Linked DNA regions of Homo sapiens. The protein of the gene in region 1 interacts with the protein of each later gene in a pairwise test. Each region holds a gene or a part of one and is shown in the gene's direction. Other genes may lie near its edges.

Region 1 (7,894 bases):
TATAATCCCAACACTTTGGGAAGCTGAGGCGGGCGAGTCACCTGAGGTCAGGAGTTTGAGACCAGCCTGGCCAACATGGTGAAACCCCATCTCTACTAAAAATACAAAAATTGGCCAGGCATGGTGGCATGCACCTGTAATCCCAGCTACTCAGGAGGCTGGGGCAGGAGAATCACTTGAACCTGGGAGGTGGAGGTTGCAGTGAGCCGAGCTGAGATCACACTACTACACTTCAGCCTGGGCAACAGAGTGAGACACCGTCTAAAAAAAAAAAAAAAGCAAAATAGAAGTTTGATTAAGTGTTCCTCTTTTCACACAGGTGTCCCTCACACCTTAGACATTACAGATCTAAGCAATAGGCTGGGTGAGGTGGCTCATGCCTGTAATCCCAGCACTTTGGGAGGCCAAAGTGGTTGGATCACTTGAACTCAGGAGTTCGAGACCAGCTTGGGCAACATGGCAAAACCCTGTCTCTATCAAACACGCACACACACAAATTAGCAGACATGGTGGCATGCGCCAGCTAGGGAGGATGAGGTGTGAGAATCTCCTGAACGCCAGAGGTGGAGGCTGCAGTGAGTTGTTATCGCACCACTGCACTCCAGCCTGGGTGACAGAGTGAAGCCCTGTCTCAAAAAAGAAAAAGAAAAAAAAATCTAAGTAATAATAGGTAGAAAAAATGGTAATAAAGTCTATATAAAGAGGAAAAAAGACATTCAGGGTAGGAGGAAAGAAAATGACATTTCATACAGAGAGAGGGAGAGAAAGAGGACAGAGGTAAAATACACGAGAGACAAAGGTAGATAGAAGAGAGAGAAGTGGAATTTGGAGTTCTGCTTAGTGTCAATGCGGGTAAGCTGCTTATTTCATAAATGGGCATTACCTCTTTTTTCTGCTATTTAATACCTAGTTTACTTTCCAATCTTTTATTTTTCTTCTAACCTCCTCTAAAGATTAGCTTAACAAAAATAAAATCAAGATGTACACTGGAGCAAAAAGCTTCAAGAACTCTGAGAATTCTCCTAAAATTTCCTTTACCCTTGGAATATCTTGTTACCTCCAAGTTTGGCCTTTTGGGCCCAAGCAAAAGGATCTGATTTTTTTTTTTTTTTTTTTTTTCCCTGAGATGAAGTCTTGCTCTGTCGCCCAGGCTAGAGTGCAGTGGCGTGATCTCGGCTCACTGCAACCTCTACCTCCCAGGTTCAAGTGATTCTTCTGCCTCAGCCTCCCAAGTAGCTGGGACTACAGGCATGCACCACCACAACTGGCTAATTTTTGTATTTTTAGTAGAGACAGGGTTTCATCATGTTGGCCAGGCTGGTCTCCAACTCCTGACCTCAAGTGATCCATCCACCTTGCCATCCGTGAGCCACTGCACCCAGCCTGATCTTTTTCCTTTATATCATATAGCACAGCTAACACTATATGTTTAAACCTGTAACGCTTAGGTTTAAACATTAAAATTAGACTTTACTAAAGACTAAGGGTTTACAAAGACTACCCACACAGAGTAACATTAAATCCAATCATCTGGCTTATAAAACCTCGACCTCTCTCTTCTAAGTGCCCCATTTCAGCTCCCATTCTGTTTCTTAGTGGTGGGCACCATTTTAGCAATCTCAGCACCCATCACCCAGGTGGTCACAGCTGCAAGGTTACTTTTCTTACAGTACAGAACCCAGGGCAAACATGAAGCCTACACTTAAGGCCTCAAAATGATAAGTTATACACATAATTACTCCAACAATCACCCAAGAAATACACATAGACAATAATAGGTATCTTTGACCAAGGGCCCCACAGAGCTGGCTACCAATGACCAGCTCCCTGAAGGGTAAATTATTCTCTAGGACAGTATGATATTATCCCCAGATAAAGTCAAGCCTAAAATCATGGGATATAGTGAAAAGAACACTGGACTAGGCATCAGGAGTTCGAGTTATTCCTACCTCATTTTGTGAACCCCCCCCCCCAAGCAAGTTACTATATATTTAAATTTATTTACACCATACGTTAAATAGGACCTCTCTATATCAACCTTAAAGTGCTAGAGTAAGAATAAAATGAGATGACAGATGGAAAGTGCTTTGAAAAAGTAGATTCTTTTACAGCTCTGGATGTCCATGATTCCCATCCATCCAATGAACATGAGCACTTACTATGCATTACATGTTGCAGAAACAAAAATGAGTAAAATTCAGCAATTGGAATGAAATGGAGTTTTTTTGGTTTCTTTTTTGTTTTTTGAGATGGAGTATTGCTCTGTTGCCCAGGCTGGAGTGCAGTGGCATGATCTCGGCTCACTGCAACCTCTACCTCCCAGGTTTAAACGATCCTCCTGCCTCAGCCCCCCTAGTAGCTGGGATTACAGGCACATTAGCCTGTATGCCCAGCTAATTTTTATATTTTTAGTAGAGACAGGGTTTCGCCATGTTGGCCAGGCTGGTCTCAAACTCCTGACCTTAGGTAATCCAGCCGCCTCGGCCTCCCAAAGTGCTAGGATTACAGGTGTGAGCCACCACGCCTGGCCTGAAATGTAGTTTTAAAAGCTTATAAGGTTGACTGGGTTTGGTGGCTCACTCCTGTAATCCCATCACTTTGGGAGGCTGAGACAGGCAGATGGCTTGAGCTCAGGAGTTTGAGACCGGCCTGGGCAACATGGTGAAACCCTGTCTCCACTAAAAACACAAAAAATTAGCCAGGAGTGGTGGTGTGTGCCTGTGGTCCCAGCTACTCAGGGGCGTGGGGGGCTGGGGTTGGAGGATCTCTTGAGCCTGGGAGGCGGCTGTTGCTGTAATCCGAGATCATGCCATTGCACTCCAATCTGAGTGTCAGAAAGAAACCCCGTCTAAAAAAAAAAAAAAGTTTATAAAGTGATTGGGAAGCATTTTTCTGGATATGCAATCTGTCCAACTTTGCCATCAATCATAAAACGTTTCATTGCTTACTAATTGCTTACTACTCCAAAGCTGAAAACTATTGTAGAGGCGGTGAGGATACAGAAGTGTAAGATTACTGTGGTCTTCTAATAATGTAGAATCTAGTGTGGCAGGGCTGGACGCGGTGGCTCACGCCTGTAATCCCAGCACTTTGGAAGGCCGAGGCAGGCGGATCACGAGGTCAGGAGATCAAGACCATCCTGGCCAACAAGGTGAAACCCCGTCTCTACTAAAAAATACAGAAATTAGCTGGGCGTGGCGGGTGCCTGTAATCCCAGCTACTAGGGAGGCTGAGGCAGGAGAATCTCTTGAACCAGGGAGACGGAGGTTGCAGTAAGCCGAGATGGCGCCACTGCACTGCAGCCTGGCCACAGAGTGACACGCCGTCTCAAAAAAAAAAAAAAAAAAATTAAAACTTTTGTCTTGCAGTACCTGGACTGGAGATCAAATTCTGATGTTAACTTACCGTTTGATCTTTGACAAGTCCTTTAGCCTTTCTAAGCCTGTTTCCCCAGCTGTAAAATGGGAATAAAATACAGTACTGTCCCTCCAAAAAGAAGCTGAGGCAAAATCAGGCCAAGCTTGAGGACTGCAACCCAGGACCATAGATTCAAGCTGCCCTGAATATACACTCGGATTAGCAAGTTACAAGTAGGTTTTTAAAGGAAAAGAGGCAGCTCCTAAATTGTTTACCAATTTACATTAAAATATCGTGGGCTCTTGACTAGCTATACATTGTTCTTTGTATCTTAAATTTCAGAAACTTAAAGATAATGCGTAGGCAGCTAATCAGGAACAAAATGCCTTTAAACAATTGCCCCAGGCATTAGTAGTGAAAGGAAGAGAATGACAGCCTGCCTACTTCGCAGAGCTGAGGTCTGATCTATTTTTCTTAGTACCTATTCGTAAGGGTTGTTGTGAGGTTAAAGTGAGACAATCTATGTAAAGAACAGTTCCTGGAACATAAATGCTTGATAAATTATGGCCACAATTCTTTTTTGTGGTTGAGCAGTGCGGGGAGATCGCGAAAAATTTCTATTTACGCGCAGCTAACAAAATACTCTATGTTGCAGAGCTGTTTCACTTTCTCCCTTTGAGACGCAAGCCGGCTTGCCGCCTCCTCAAGTAACCAGGCACAATGTTCTGATCCCAAAGTCTCACAATCCTTCAAGTATGAAATCAGTAAAAACTCCAACTTCCATTTATGGATTTACGGAGAACTTTTTATACATCGAGGGGCTAATTCAATCAGTAAGTCACTTTGATTTTTACTCTGATCACCGAGACTAATAAGCAGCGATGCCGAACCAAGTAAATGAAAGAATCGTGAGCCATACTTCAGTAGATAAAATTTAAATGTAGACTGATTTTCTTCACGATTGCTAGGGAAGAAATCCTTACAGCGTACTTAGAAATCTTTGTTTTAAAATGATAACGCTGTTATGTTGGGCTGAAAATAAAACGGATACTTCCCCAAGGTCAGCAGCGGAGGAGGCAACCGTGGCCTTGCCAAAGTCATCCCCTCTTCCCAGCCCCCGTTCTTCCTGCCGCCCTCCCCCTGCCCCCTCCCTTCCCCACCCCCATCAACAAACTCCGCCGGGACATTTCAGTACCACCACTCCCTAGCCCGGCGAAGCGCAGGGGCGTGCTGGGGAGGAGTAAAGAGGGTGGGGCGGAAACCCAATTTCATTGTTCGCGGGACCGATTCTTCCCAAAAGAGCTCGCTGGCAGCGCCTGCGCAGTGCGCCCTCTTTGTGCCAGGCTGCAGCAAGCTGGTTGTTTGTGTGTGTCTACCCGAAGCTGCGGAGGCGGAGCGAGGGGGCGTGGCCTGCCTTGTCGCACTCTAATTGGGCTTTCGCAGGAAAGTGGGCGGGCGCGGGGCGGAGCTTCCGATAACAACACTCGGAGCTGGGGCTGTGGCTATTTGTTGCTGCGCCGCCACCGCCCGAGTCATGTTCCGCGATCTTCTCAGGCTCTCCTAGCAGCATCCATCGCCGCCACCCTATCTTCACTGGCTTCATTCACCTTCTCCTTCTCTCTTCGTTGCTGAGCGACAAGCTTCCTAGCGCTATGACTGTCGTCTCCGTCCCGCAGCGGGAGCCGCTCGTCCTGGGTGGCCGCCTTGCGCCGCTTGGCTTTTCCTCCCGAGGTTACTTTGGGGCCCTCCCGATGGTGACCACGGCTCCGCCTCCTTTACCCCGGATCCCGGACCCCCGGGCACTGCCCCCGACCCTCTTCCTCCCTCATTTCCTAGGGGGAGATGGCCCGTGTCTGACCCCCCAGCCTCGCGCTCCAGCAGCTCTGCCCAACCGCAGCCTCGCCGTGGCGGGAGGCACTCCTCGGGCAGCGCCGAAGAAGCGGCGAAAGAAGAAGGTGCGGGCCAGCCCCGCAGGGCAGCTGCCCAGCCGCTTCCACCAGTACCAGCAGCACCGGCCGAGTCTGGAGGGCGGCCGGAGCCCCGCGACCGGCCCGAGCGGAGCGCAGGAGGTCCCGGGCCCGGCCGCCGCCTTGGCCCCGAGTCCTGCAGCCGCAGCCGGCACGGAGGGAGCCAGCCCCGACCTTGCCCCGCTGCGGCCCGCGGCTCCCGGCCAAACCCCCCTCAGGAAAGAGGTGAGGCCGCCAGGGGGCCGTTGGGGAGTCGGGCCCTTAGACGGTCGCGGCCGAGCTCTGGGGCTGCAGACCCTGCACCCGGGGGGTCGGGCGGGTGGGGGCGGGGTGGGGGGGGCGGCTGTTTACTCGGGAGGGAAGTTTCCGTGACGCCCGCTCCATTCTTGCTTTGGGGGAAGAAGGGGGAAGGGGAGGCATGCGCTGGCGCTTCTGATTGGCTCCCAGGAGTCGGCCAATGAGAAGCGCCGCTGCGCCCCAGCAACAGCCCCGATTTAGAAGGCTGGCGGCGTTCCAGGGGGTTTCGGCGTTCCGGGCGCGCGGCGGGGTGGGGGCAGGGACAGGGCCCGCGGGAGGGCTGACGTCAGCGCGCGCTACGTGCCCGGCGCTCCGGCGCCCATGAAGGAGGCGAGGCCGGGTGGGGGCAGCTGGGGAAGGACTGGGCCCGGCTTTCGGCCTCCCGGCTATCGGGAGCCCCAGTCCTAGTCGGTGAAACGCGGAGACGGCCTCTAACGTCCCGCCGTAGGGGGTGGAGTGGGCTCCGAGCGGCTGGGTTTCGTTTGGTTGGAGTTGTGCCAAAATGTGAGGTGCCCGGTGTGGGACGCGCAGTCCAGTTGGGGCTCTGCCCGCCTCGGGCCTGACCTACTTAGTGGTTCCAAGTTAAGAGTTGGCAGGAGCCGCACAAAACTGATTTTATTACTTTTGCCACTGTGGTACTTCGTGTTAGTGTGTCCAGAGTAAGTTTTCAGAAGAGTTAGCAATTGAATTGACTTAGCCCGTCTGATTGCAGTGCTATTGCATTAGGATAAAATGGATAGAAGTTTAAATAGGATTAAGTCTACGAAATGATTTCAAAGTCTTGTCAGAATAACGTTTTATGGACTTAAGTTCAATGACTTAATCTTCGTAATAATGAAATGAAAAAGTTCCCGTTATTTAGTGAAGAATGTTGCATTGAATTAGAGATTTGCGGTTTATCTGTGCCCTTGGGAAAAAATTTGCCCACCTTGTTTCTTTAAATTATCGTCTCAATGTCTCCCTTTTAAAATTCCACGACTTTTGAAATATCCGTGATTACCTAAAAGCTTTTGTGCTTGTTTCCTGGCCTGTTTTCTAGAACAGGTACTAACTAGGGAGCTCTGGCAGTGAACCTTATTGACGTGGAAAGTTGTGGTCCTCTTTCGTGTCGTGTCTTGCTTACTACCGCGTTACAAGTGTTGGTAGTGCAGTGATCTAGTGGATTACCTTACGCTTTTCCATCCTTTCAAGACTTCCTATAAGGCCCACTTAAGTTGGGAAAGATTAAGGTGAGTGAAGCAGCGTTCTTGAAGCAGTTACTAAACCAGAAAGGAGGTACACAGCAAAGATTGTTTCTGGCACTCGTATTTGGAAGAGAGCTCATTAGTCTTCCTTACAGTTGTAGAAAGGTGGACTTGGGTTATTTCAGACTTTTTTTAGTTTGACATTTTAGAACTGGTTCACGTTGCATACTGGTAACTAGCAGTGGTGATTAACTGCATTTTTAGTGGCGAACAAGAGTGAACTTAAAAGTCAAGGGAAATTTAAGTTTTTTGTTGTTTTTTTTTTCTTGAGACAGAGTCTGCCTCTATCGCACTCCAGGCTGGAATGCAGTGGCACGATCGATCTCTGCTCACTGCATCCTCCCCTTCCCAGGCTGAAGGGATCCCGCCTCAGCCAGCCTCCCGAGGCGCGTGTTACCACGCCGGGCTGATTTTTATATTTGTAGTAGACATGGGGTTTCGCTATGTTGCCCAGGCTGGTCTCGAACTCCTTGAGCTTGAGCGATCTGCTTGCCTTGACCTCCCAAAGTGCTGGGATTACAGGCGTGAGCCACCATGCCCAATTAAAGTTTTTGTAATTTTCAGCTTTTATTTTAGATCAAGGAGGTACTTGTGCAGGTTTGCTACATGGGTATATTTCGTGATGCTGAGGTTTGGAGTATGAATGATCCCATTCCAGGTAGTGAGCATAGTACCCAGTAGGTCCCCATCTCTCTCTCAACCCCCCTTCTAGTAGTGCCTAGTGTCTGTTGTTGTTCCCCACTATATCCATGTTGTACCCAGTGTTTAGCTCCCAAATTCACTTGTAAGTGAGAACTTGCGATATTTGGTTTTCTGTTTCTGCATTAATTCGTCTAGGGTAATGGCCCCCAGCTACATACGTGTTGTCACAAAGAACATAATTTTGTTCTTTTCTATGGCTGTGGGCAAACTTAAACACAACAAAACTAGATATGTGATATGAGGTTCATAACTGATTTTTATCTAGAAACTATATTTACTTTTGTGTTCTTGTCTTTGTAGGTTTTAAAATCAAAGATGGGAAAATCG
Region 2 (7,000 bases), on another chromosome or scaffold:
TTTTTACAAAACTAAACAGAGTCTTACCACATTGTCCAAAGGTCAAGCTCTTAAGTATTTACCCAACTGATTTGAAAACTCATGTCCACATAACTACATGAATATTTATAGCAGCTTTATTCGTAATCAGCAGCTTTATTCATAATCAAAAACTGGAAGCAACCAAGGTATCCTTCAATAGGTGAATGGATAGACAAACCAGAATAGTATTCAGTTATAAAAAGAAATAAGCTATCATGAAAAGATATGAGTAAATCTTAAATGCATATTGCTAAGTAAAAGAAGCCAGTCCGAAAAGGCTACATACTGTATGATTACAACTATATGACATACTGGAAAAGGCAAAACTAGACAGACTAAAAAGATCGGGGTGAGGGCAGGGATGGTAGGGAAAGTTGAATAGGTGAAGCATGAGAAATATTTCTAGGGTGGTGAAATTATTTTGTATGACAGAAGCATTAACCAAATTTGGAAGCCCACCCAAGCTTTGCTGTCCAAAGTTTTTATTAGGGTTTCATTATACAGGCATGATTGATTGAATCCTTGGTCATGTGAGTGAATTCAATCTCCAGCTCCTCTCTTCTCCCAAGAGATTGGACTGATGTCATGTGGCCCAAAGCCCCAACCCTCTAATCATGCGGTTGGTCTTTCCAGCATGGACAACTCCTATCCTGAAACTATTTAGAGTCCTATCAGGAGTCACCTTGTTAGCATAAACCCAGGTGTGATCTAAGGGATTCACCATGAATAACAAGGCCTATTGGGAAATTCCAAAGATGTAGAAGTTATTTCCTAGGAAAAAGGGACAAAGTCTAGCCAAATTTTTTTCTTTTTTTTTTTTTTTGAGACATGGTCTGGCTCTGTCACCCAGACTGGAGTGCAGTGGCACAATCACAGCTCACTGCAGCATCAACCTCCTGGGCTCAAGCCATCCTCCCACCACAGCCTTCCAAGTAGCTGGGACTATAGGCACGTGCCACCATGCTCAGCTAATTTTTGTATTTTTGTAGAGACAGGGTTTTACTATGTTACCCAGGCCTGTCTTGAACTCCTAGACTTAAAGATCTGCCCACCTCAGCCTCCCAAAGTGCTGGGATTACAGGCATAAGCCACCATGCCTGGCCCAAATTCTTCATGTTTACAACCCAGTGAAATTTGGGTTCCTCAGTGTTGGGGTGAGTAGTTACAGACAAACAAGGAAAGTTAGAATGATCCATGTAGTAATGGATTAGACTTGAAAACATCAGTATGGACTCTTGTGTAATTTAATATAAATAATATAGATGGTTATATTTAGAAATATTGAGTATAGCTATGTATATATACAAGGGTTAATATGCGCACATAAATCTCGTGCTGCCAACTGAGAAGGCCTAGAAGTGATGACATCCCGATGGCAATGAACACATCTAGTGCCCAAGTCGTGGTTTCTATCATGCAATAAAATGAACATGTAGAAAATGCTCCTGACGGCTGGGCAGGGTGGTTCATGCCTGTAATCCCAGCACTTTGGGAGGCCAAGGAGGGTGGATCACCTGAGGTCAGGAATTAGAGACCAGCTTGGCCAACATGGTGAAACCCCATCTCTACTGAAAATACAAAAAAATTAGCTGGGCATAGTGACGGGCGCCTGTAATCCCAGCTACTCGGGAGGCTGAGACAGGAGAATCGCTTGAACCTGGGAGGTGGAGGTTGCAGTAAGCTGAGATCGTGTGCCATTGCACTCCAGCCTGGCAACAAGAGCGAAACTCCGTTTCAAAAAAAAAAAGAAAAGAAAATGCTCTTGACATCTTGTAGTGCTAGAAAGTAAGAAAGTGCTACAATAGCTGGACACGGGGGCTCATGCCTGTAATCCCAGCACTTTGGGAGGCTGAGGCGGGAGGATCACGAGGTCAAGAGATCGAGACCATCCTGGCCAACATGGTGACACCCCCGTCTCTGCTAAAAATACAAAAATTAGCTGGGCATGGTGGCACATGCCTGTAGCCCCAGCTACTCGGGAGGCTGAGGCAGGAGAATCACTTGAACCCAAGAGGCAGAGGTTGCAGTGAACCAAGATTGCACCAGTGCACGCCAGCCTGGGCGACAGTGCAAGACCCTGTCTCCAAAAGAAAAAAAAAAGTGCTAAAATACACACACACACGATGGGAGCATAGCAAAGGGATACAGGAACCAAGTGAAAAGCTTCCAATGCCCAAAGCATTCCAAAGCTTCCAGTGTGGGAATAACAATGAAGTATCTGAATGTAAATCAAAGTATAAAATAAATACTCATGAGTCCATAGTGATAGAAATACGGTGTTTGAGAAACTGTCACAACTAAAAGAAGCCTGAGAGAGATGACTAAATGTAGTATGATGTCCTGGATGGAATCCTGGAGCAGAAAAGGAACATTAGGACTAATGAAATCTGAATAAAGTATGGCATTTAGTTAGTAATGATTTATCAATATTAGTTCATTAATTGTGACAAGTGTACCACACTAATCCAAGATGTTAAAAATAGGGGAAACAGCATGATGTATATAGGAGCTCTGTGTACTATCTTTGCAATAATTTTGTACATCTTAAACTGTTCCAAAATATAGGTGTTTTTGTTTTTGGAAATTGTTATCTTATAAACACATGAACTGTGCATGTTCTTTCCTAGGCCTCAAAAAAGAAGGTGTATATGCTCTATAACCTGCAGCCAGACCGGTCTGTGACTGGTGGAGCCTGGTACAGTGACCAGGATTTTGAATCTGAATTTGTAGAGGTGCTTAACCAACAGTGTTTTAAATTCCTACAGTCCAAGGTGAGGTATGATTGAGGAAACATCACTGCAAACCCTCTTGTAAAAAGTTTTTCACAAAGGATTTTAATCTATTTATCATATTTTATAGGAATTAAAAACCTGAAATTGGGAATTTTTACTTAACTAAATATGTTCTGTTGTTGGTTTGACTCAGTATAAAGTGTATTCAGAAAACACACCAATATTCTTATTTACATTTCTTATGTTTCAATCCTTATAGGCAGAAACAGCACGAGAAAGCAAACAGAACCCAATGATACAAAGAAATAGTTCATTTGCCTCATCACATGAAGTGTGGAAATATATCTGCGAATTGGGAATCAGTAAGGTCAGAACTGAATTTCATCTTATTTTTTAAAACTTATTCTTTGTCACATACAATGTATTCCAAACATGTATTTGACCCACATTGTTTTTTTTTTTTGAGATGATAGCTACGAACATTCTGCAGAATCCACTTTGGGAAAATACTGTCCTGTATCTTAGGCAAAGGCAGTCACTGCCATTGGGCATTGTCTGAACTGATACTCAGCTTGGGACACTGATGCTTTTTTTATTTTTTTGGAGGTAGGGTCTCATTTTGTTGCCCAGGCTGGTTTTGAACTTCTGGACTCAAGTGATCCTCCTGCGTTGGCCTCCCAAAGTGCCACTGTACCCTAGCCTTTTGAAATTCTTTTTTTAAGGACACTGATGCTTTTCACAGTGAAGAAATCAAAGTGGCCATTTTGGACATGTCACTTTAATTTCCTGGGCCTCAGATTTCTCATAAAAACTAGGAACTTGGACTATTTGATGTCTAAAGTGCCTTTCTGCTCAAGCATTTTATAAATCTCCAATAAATTCCTGCTAAAGAAATGTTATTTTTTATAAGATTTCTCGATTTTACTTAGGAAGTAAAGATACCAGAAAGTGTCAAACTCAGCATGAGCTTAGAGTTCTGTCCCTGGCACCTCAGTGGTTTGTGCTAACTTGGCCTATTGTTCCTCCTCTTTGTGCTTTAAATTACTCCACCCCAGCATAATGTTTCTCCCATTTCACAGCAGAATTATGACCCTTTACTGTTTTATTTATTTATTTGAGATGGAGTTTGGCTCTTGTTGCCCAGGCTGGAGTACAGTAGTGCGATCTCAGCTCACTGCAACTTCCGTCTCCCGGGTTCAAGCCATTCTCCTGCCTCAGCCTCCCGAGTAGGTGGGATTACAAGTGCCTGCCACCATACCCAGCTAATTGTATTTTTAGTAGAGACAGGGTTTTGCCATGTTGGCCAGGCTGGTCTCGAACTCCTGACCTCAAGTGATCCACCTGCCTCGGCTTCCCAAAGTGCTGGGATTACAGGCGTGAGCCACTGCGCCCAGCAACCCTTTACTGTTTTTAACACCCTCCAAGTGGATGTCTCCCTATCCTACTTGTGTCCTTTCTGATGTATCCCTTTTTTAGGTAGAGTTATCCATGGAAGACATTGAAACCATCCTGAATACACTCATTTATGATGGAAAAGTGGAGATGACGATTATTGCTGCAAAAGAAGGCACAGTTGGCAGTGTAGATGGACACATGAAACTGTACAGGGCAGTCAATCCAATCATCCCTCCCACAGGTTTGGTCCGGGCACCCTGTGGACTCTGCCCGGTGAGTTAAAGTGGCTTCACTTTACACTTGACTGCCCACGGGTGCAAGTGCCACATTAAGAAACAGAGCAAGCACAGCCCAGTTTTCTCAGACTCTTAGGGTTGACCAAGAGCTATTCAAACCTCCATGAAACCTTGATGAACAGACCTTTAATGAACACATCATTCCTTTACTTTTTTTTTTTTTTTTTTTTTTGAGACGGAGTCTCACTCTATCACCGAGGCTGGAGTGCAGTGGCACAATCTTGACTCATTGCAACCTCCAACTCCCGGGTTCAAGCAGCTCTCCTGCCTCAGCCACCTGAGTACCTGAGATTATAGGCACCCACCACCATGCCCAGCTAATTTTTTTTATTTTTAGTGGAGACGGGGTTTCACCATGTTGGCCAGGCTGGTCTCGAACTCCTGACCTCAGGTGATCCCCTCAGCCTCCCAAAGTGCTGAGATTACAGGCATGTGCCCCTGTACCTGGCCCCCTGCTTTACATTCTTTCTTGGAACAACCACATTAAGGATATTTACGTTTTCTGCTCTTGGCCTTGAAATGGACACTTTTTGATGAGGGCTAATCATTTCACCTAAATAGGGCAGAAAATGAGATTTGTTGAGAACCTACCTTGGGCCAGATATGTCCTTGATGATTTCCATAGGCGGTCTCATTTAATCCTCCTTACATTCTTGAAGCTAGTGGTGTTATTTCCCCTTAAAAGTGAGGGAGCTTAGGCTTAGGAAGACATAGGGGCATACAGCTTAGAAGTAACCGGGATTCAAACCCAGAGATCATGTCTTTCCCCTGCAGCATGCCCCAGCACTCCTCCTTCATTCATTCCCAAATATTGTAAGTGCCAACTCTATGCTCTAGGCACTAAGGATACAAGAGAAAGCAAGAGACACTGTCCCAGTCCTCATGGCATTTATAGATGAGCCTGTGTGTGTTTTATTTCATTATACCAACCTTTGTCTATATGCCTAAGCTCTCTATGCCTTGGTTTCAGTCCCTAGACAAAAGGCTAACATATTAGGAATTCTGTTTTGCACCCTTCACAAAAAGGTAGCTAAACATGAAACATTTGGTTAATCAAAATTAAGTCATTCATATGTATAGGTCTCCCTGCCCATATTCCTGTGTTACCTGGTGATAGCCTTTTGCCCAGCAGACAGGTGAGCATGGTCATCTTAATGCCACAGTAAAAAAAGCCTCTCTACTACTCCTAACTTGATGATCACAAAGCAGGCCCTATTATAGTATGTTCTTCCCGCTCCCCCCTCGCCCCCCGAGATGGAGTCTTGCTGTCGCCCAGGCTGGAGTGCAGTGGCACGATCTTGGCTCACTACAACCTCTGCCTCCCAGGTTCAAGCAATTCTCCTGCCTCAGCCTCCCGAGTAGCTGGGATTACAGGTGCCTGCCACCACGCTCAGCTAATTTTTGTATTCTTAGTAGAGACGGGGTTTCACCATGTTAGCCAGGATGGTCTTGACCACCCACCTCGGCCTCCCAAAGTGCTGGGATTACAGGTGTGAGCCACTGCGTCCGGCTATAATATGTTCTTAAGTACAGTCCTAGTCCCTTTCAGTTTGAAAGTTTTGTTTTTAATCTTGCTTTAAATAAGTGGTTGGGTCTTAGATATTTTAAAACTTTAATTTGAATATAATTTTTTTTTCTTTTTTAAAGGTTTTTGATGACTGCCACGAAGGTGGTGAGATTTCACCATCTAACTGTATTTACATGACAGAGTGGCTCGAATTTTAATAGAGAGCTATGAACTTTATTGACATTTTGCAAATGAAGTTACTTAGGGAGCAGATAATTTAATTCATGATGGAACACGAAATCTCCTTGAAAGCAAACTTCACAATAATGGACGTAGACTTGCTGCTATGAAAACATATTTTTTTTATTTATGAAGACTAAATTTATATTGGTAAAATAGCCAGTAGAATATGAAAGAAATAAGGTTAGTAGTGAAATTCATTCTTCAATAAATAAAACACTTTGAAACTCCGGAGGACCACATCTTTCAAGACTTCTGATGGGTCAAGGAAAAAGATGCCAACATACCCGTATTTACCAAGTACTATGATAATGGCTAGAGTATAAAAATGTTCTTTTTAAAGTTATTTATTAAGTTCTTCATTGGAAGTTTTTTTTTATATCTGGTTCACTACCACCATTTTCTGTTTCCTACTTTCTCAGTGGTTTCATTGAAAAGAAATTAGAAGGGGTTAAAGGCAGGAATAGCAAAGAGTGCAAACTTGGGGTATGACTGGGGGAGAGTGGAACATGCCTTTTCCGCACAATATTAATTCCTTTTTGTATCAGAAATGTTCTTTTAGGAGATTATGCTACCATACTTACTTCAAACCCAATGACTACTGTCAAGGACATATTTTCAGTACATAAATACTATCATTTTCATTCTAAAGAATATTTTCACTGTTCCTTCTTTCTTAAAGTCTTATGTTTCACTCTTTAACTCAAATGTATTCTTTGTTAGAATTTACCCTAGATTCTTATTTAATGTCTGCAGTAGACTGAATGTTTGTGTGCCCCCAGAATTCTAATGTTGAAATCTCATTTCCA

Evidence for each region.
Region 2: the proteins of PNRC1 (region 1) and POLR3F interact in binary tests that used the Homo sapiens proteins (3 or more experiments, as listed by UniProt).

Annotation. Positions count from the first base shown.
Region 1 is NC_000006.12:89,075,886-89,083,779, forward strand, and holds the start of PNRC1 (proline-rich nuclear receptor coactivator 1), read left to right. Parts: upstream 1-4,865; 5' UTR 4,866-5,009; coding exon 5,010-5,549; intron 5,550-6,665; coding exon of another isoform or gene 6,666-6,692; exon of another isoform or gene 6,693-6,850; intron 6,851-7,867; coding exon 7,868-7,894. UniProt on the Homo sapiens protein: Nuclear receptor coactivator. May play a role in signal transduction.
Region 2 is NC_000020.11:18,477,390-18,484,389, forward strand, and holds part of POLR3F (DNA-directed RNA polymerase III subunit RPC6), read left to right. Parts: intron 1-2,648; coding exon 2,649-2,792; intron 2,793-3,012; coding exon 3,013-3,120; intron 3,121-4,229; coding exon 4,230-4,421; intron 4,422-6,091; coding exon 6,092-6,169; 3' UTR 6,170-7,000. UniProt on the Homo sapiens protein: DNA-dependent RNA polymerase catalyzes the transcription of DNA into RNA using the four ribonucleoside triphosphates as substrates.